Linked DNA regions of Homo sapiens: region 1 is linked to region 2. The links come from fine-mapping of genetic effects on gene expression. A gene starts in region 2. The other region holds a variant in brackets. All regions are shown on one strand. Distances are between the middles of the regions. Region 1 has its middle 7.6 kb from the start of CLEC4G. Region 2 holds the start of FCER2 (Fc epsilon receptor II).

What was found. PIP is the estimated chance that this variant, and not a neighbour inherited with it, causes the effect.
Region 1: its variant is the best candidate, but not a certain one, in a credible set for the expression of FCER2 in whole blood (INTERVAL, PIP 0.78).

The regions. Positions count from the first base shown.
Region 1 is chr19:7,723,157-7,725,941 of GRCh38, forward strand. No RefSeq gene overlaps it. Among named protein-coding and RNA genes, the nearest start is that of CLEC4G, 7.6 kb to the right of the region's middle. The variant T/TCA (reference allele first, on the strand shown) is at 1,316.
Region 2 is chr19:7,700,901-7,703,685 of GRCh38, forward strand. It overlaps FCER2 (Fc epsilon receptor II), which reads right to left and starts at 1,231. Exons shown (of 11, transcript NM_001220500.2): 1 at 1,115-1,231. LOC105372262 (a long non-coding RNA gene) reads right to left here. Exons shown (of 5, transcript XR_936296.2): 5 at 2,180-2,221. RefSeq lists an enhancer at 1,118-1,227.

The DNA of each region.
Region 1 (2,785 bases), 22 kb after region 2:
ATCTCAGATGGCTCTGCCCTGTGCTGTGATGCTATGATGGTTAACACCTGGTGTCAACTTGACCGGATGGAGGGAGATGCCTGGATGGCTGGTGAAGCATTGTTTCTGGGTGTGTCTGTGAGGATGTTATCAGAGGAGGTTGATATTTGAGTCCGTGGGCTGGGAGAGGAAGACCCATCCTCAATGTGAGTGGGCACCATCCCATCGGCCGCCAGCGTGGCTAGAACAAAGCAGGTGGAAGAAGGCGGGAGAAGCTGGCTTGCTCGCTGAGTCAGCTCCCTCTCTCTTCCCCTGCTGTGCCAATCACTTGGTTTCCTCTCCTCCTACCCTTGGACATCAGGCTCTAGGTTCTTTGGCCTTTGAACTCTGGCACTTGCACCAGTGGCCTCCCAGGTGTTCTCGGGCCTTTGGCTGCAGACTGAAGGTTGCACTGTCTCCTTCCATGATTTTTGAGGCTTTTGGACTTGGACTGAGCCACACTACCACTTTCTGTCTTTCCCGGGCTTGCAGACAGCCTACTATGGGACTTCGCCTTATAATTGTGTGAGCTAATTCTCCCAAATAAACTCCCTTTAATATTGTGTTAGGCTGTTCTTTTTTTTTTTTTTTCCTCAAGATGGTGTCTCATTCTGTCACCCAAGCTGGAGTGCAATGGTGTGATCTCAGCTCAGTGCAACCTCCACCTCCCAGGTTCAAGTGATTCTCCTGCCTCAGCCTCCCAAGTAGCTGGGATTACAGGCACCCGCCACCACACCTGGCTAATTTTTGTATTTTTAGTAGAAATGGGGTTTCAACATATTGGCCAGGCTGGTCTCGAACTCCTGACCTCAAGTGATCTGCCCGCCACGGCCTCCCAAAGTGCTGGGATTACAGGCGTGAGCCACCACACCCAGCTGTGTTAGGCCATTCTTGCATTGCTATAAAGAGATACCTGAGACTGGGTAATTTAGAAGAAAAGAGGTTTAATTGGCTCATGATTCTACAGGCTGTCCAGGAAGCATAGCAGAGATATCTGCTTCTGGAGGGGCCTCAGGAAGCTTCCAATCATGGCAGAAGACAAAGGCGAAGCAGGTGTCTCACATGGCGAAAGCAGGAGCAAGAGACAGCGTGGCAGGGGAGGTATCACACACTTTTGAACAACCAGATTTTATGTGAACTTTGAGTGAGAGCTCACTTATCACCATGGGGATGGTCCAAGCCATTCACGAAGAATCTGCCCCTATGATGCAAAACACTTCCCACCAGCCCCCACCTCCAGCACTGGGGATACATTTCAACATGAGATTTGGGTGGGGACAAATATCCTAACTATATC[T/TCA]CACACACACACACACACACACACACACACACGCATATCCTATCAGTTCAGTCCTGGACAACCCTGGCTAACACAGATTTGTGATGACCTGCAATATACCATGTCCTCATCCCTGGATCCTGTGAACATCACTTTATATGGCAAAAGACACTTTGCAGACGTGATGATGGATTTCAAGATGGGAGGAGCTCGTGTGGTAAAGAATTTGTCCCTGGTTCCTGCTAGGAAGTGTCTAAGTCCTTGGAATTTTCCAAGTGCTGTGAGTCTTTGTTATTCATCAGGGCCCTGGACCACACTTGGGTTTATATGAGGGGGTGGCTTAGGATGGGTGCTGGTCATGCCAGATACATCAACCATGAGGGTTGGAATTTGCAGCCACTTGACCAAAAGGGGGACTGGAGATAAAGTTCAATCACAAGGCCAACGATTCAGTCAATCTTTCCTGTGTAATGAGACCCCACTAAAAACTCCCGAGGCCTTGTGAGGTGGCTCATGCCTGTAATCCCAGCACTTTGGGAGGCCAAGGCAGGAGGATCACTTGAGCTCAGGAGCTCAAGACCAACCTGAACAATATGGTGAAACCCCGTCTCTACAAAAAATACAAACATTAGCTGGACAGGGTGGTGACATGTGCCTGTAGTTCCAGCTACTCGAGAGGCTGAGAGGTGGGAGGATCACTTGAGCCCAGAAGGTTGAGGCTGCAGTGAGCTATGATTATGCCACTGCACTCCAGCCTGGGCAACAGGGCAAGACCGGGTCTCAAAAAAAAAAAACAAACAAAACTGAAACACTGAAGGAGTAATTGGATCAATCCTGCCTACATACTGAAACCCCAAAAAAACTCAGGACACCGAGCTCTGGAGCTTCCTGGCTGGTGAACCCATCACCCTGAGAGTGGGGAAGGCATAGAGAGAGTGATGTGTGCTGACGTTATGGGGAAGGACACAGGAGCTCCGTGTTTGGGACCTTCCCAGACCTCACCCTATGTATCTTCTCATTTGGCAGGTCCTGATTTGTATTTTGTTAAGAAAACTGAAATCAGGGCCAGGCACAGTGGCTCATGCCTGTAATCCCAGCACTTTGGGAGGCCAAGGCGGGTGGATCACCAGATCAAAAGAGTGAGACTATCCTGGCTAACATGGTGAAACCCCATCTCTACTAAAAATATAAAAATTAGCCAGGCATGGTGGTGGCGGGCGCCTGTAGTCCCAGCTACTTGGGAGGCTGAGGCAGGAGAATTGCTTGAACCCGGGAGGCAGAGGTTGCAGTGAGCTGAGGTCGCACCGCTGCACTCCAGCCTGGGCGAAAGAGCGAGACACTGTCTCAAAAAACAAACAAAAAAACAAAACAAAACAAAGAACAAAACAAAACAAAAAACAAACTGAAATCGTAAGCATAGCATTTCCTAAGTTCTGGGAGTCATTCTAGTGAATTATGGAACCTGAAGGGGTCATGAGAATTTGTAGGCAG
Region 2 (2,785 bases):
CCCGGGTTCAAGCGATTCTCCTGTCTTAGCCTCCCAAGTAGCTGGGACTACAGGCACCCACCACCACACCTGGCTAATTTTTGTATTTTAGTAGAGACAGGGTTTCACCATATTGATCAGGCTGGTCTCGAACTCCTGACCACAGGTGATCTGCCCTCCTCAGCCTCCCAAAGTGCTAGGATTACAGGCGTGAGCCACTGCGCCCGACCAAGTCCTCTGACTTTAAAGCATCTACTATGTGCTGAGGAGCATGGGACTTGGGGTCCTTCAGGCCTGGAGGTCACGGGCTACCTTCTTTCGCTGCTTGACTATAGGTAAGTCCCTTCTCTCGGAGCCTCAGGGAGGTGGGGTGTGGCGCGGCCAGGCTCTGATTAGCGGCAGCTCAAGCTGGCCCTTTTGACATTGTGAGAGGAACCCAGAGACCATCCTGGGACTGGAACTGTCCAGGGAGGCAGCTGGACAGACCTGAGTCCGAGTCCTGGCTTCTTCCTGGATGAGCAGCTCAGTTTGCTCATCTGTAAATTGGGAGTATTCAAAGCACCAGCACACAGTAGGTGCTCAGTAAACCTACTGGCAGGATGCTGGGGGACTGTCCTCATTCTGTGGGGCCTCTCTCAGTGGAACTGAGGTTCCAAGAGGGTAAGTCATTTGTCCCCATCACGCAGTGGTGGGACTGGAACTCAAACCCGGGACCCTTGAGCTGGGAGCCCATTTGCTCAATCATCTGGAGACATAATCTCATGGTGGGGTGTCTACTGGTAAGTGCTGGGTGGCAGGATCCCAACTCCAGGCCGTCCTTCTAACCCAAGAGGTCCTGCCTCTGCCTAGAGTCTTCCATGGCTCCCCAGGGCCCTCTATGATCGGCCCAGCGCACTCACCAAGCTCATCTCAGACCAGATGGCCTGCTTTCACTTCCCCAAATCAGGGACTCGAATGCCTCGAGATTCTGTCCACACTGCGGCCCCCACCCCCGCCCCCTCACCACCCACCACCTCCCTTCTCTGGTTGTGACCTCCTGCTGGTCATCCCTTGAGGCTCAGCCCAAGGTCGTTTCTTCCAAGGGCGCTTTGATCTCCACTTCCCATGGCCAACCCCCAACACACCAGATACGTACTCACTTAGTGGAGTTTGGAGCCTGTGTCTGTCCTCCTAGTGTGTTGGGGTCGACCAGAGCGATTGGCAGGGACCGTCAGAGACAGAGGTTTAAGCAGGAAGAGAGACACTTTCTTCTGAAAGTAGAGCCACTGACAGCTTCTATTTTCATAGACCTAAATATGGGCTTGCCACCCGGATAACATTACACGCATGGCCTCTCCTGGTGCTCCCCACACCCGGGTGAAGTCCGTGTTATTATTATCTCCATTTCTCAGGTAAGAGAATTGGGTGAGAACTAGAGATGTTAAGCAGCAAGTTCCCACAGGGCTGAAGGAGGTGAGTGGTAGCGTCAAGATGTGAACCACTGTTACTGCACACTGAATCATACCACTATGGCCGATCACAGAGGGCCCTGGGGAGCCACGGAAGGCTCTAGGCAGAGGCAGGGCCTCTTGGGTTAGAAGGACGGCCTGGAGTTGGGATCCTGCCACCCGGCACTTACCAGCAGACACCCCACCATGAGATTATGTCTCTTGATGATTGAGCAAATAGGCTCCCAGGTCAAATGTCCCAGGTTTGAGTCCCAGCAAGAAAAAAGGGAAGAGGAGAGAGAGGCAGAGGAAGGGGAAAAAAAAGACAGAAGGAAGGAGAGGGAGAAGGAGGAGTAGGAGGGAAGGAGGGAAGCGGGGGGAAAGAAAGATACGTGAGATAATATTCAGGTCAAATATGGACAGTTTTGGCTGGGCACGGTGGCTCACGCCTGTAATCCCAGCACTTTGGGAGGCTGAGGTGGGAGGATCACTTAAGCCTGGGAGTTCAAGACCAGCCTGGACAACATAGCAAGCCGTTGTCTCTACAAAAACTATAAAAACTAGCAGGGCATGGTGGTGCATGCCTGTGATCCCAGCTACTGGGGAGGCAGAGGTGAGTGGATCACTTGAGCCCAGGAGTTCAAGATCAGCCTGGGCAACACAGTGAGATGAAAGAAAGAAAGAGAGAGAGAAAGAGAGAGAGAGAGACCGGGCACAGTGGCTCACGCCTGTAATCCCAGCACTTTGGGAGGCCGAGGCAGGTGGATCATCTGAGGTCAGGAGTTCAAGGCCAACATGGTGAAACCCTGTATCTACTGAAAATACAAAAAAAAAAAAAAAAAAAAAAAAATTAGCTGGGCATGGTGGTGGGCACCTGTAATCCTAGCTACTCGGGAGGCTGAGGCAGGAGAATCGCTTGAATCCGGGAGGCAGAGGTTGCGGTGAGCCGAGATCGCGCCATTGCATTCCAGCCTGGGCAACAAAAGCTAAACTCTGTCTCACAAAAAAAAAAAAGAAAAGAAAAAAGAAAGAAAAACAGAAAAGAAACACCAAACTCCATCCCAGCCCCATCCTGGAACTAAGACTTCATCCCCATGTCCTCACAACATGGCCCAGCTGGACTTATTCCCAAGCTTCCTCCTCCTTCTCCTCGTGTGTCCCCATTGGTGGGACAGTCCGTCCATCCACCCAGACACCCCGGCCCAGGTCCAGGCCTTGTCCAAGCACTTCCCGATCTTCCACCCCACCGCTCACCCAGCACCCGCGCCTGGCTCGTCTCAAAAAAATAACCTGCTTCTCCCCATCCCCACAGCTGCTCCCTCTTCCCCCTGGACCAGGTGACATCCCCCTCTTAGGGTTCCCCCTGCCTGGTTTGCCTT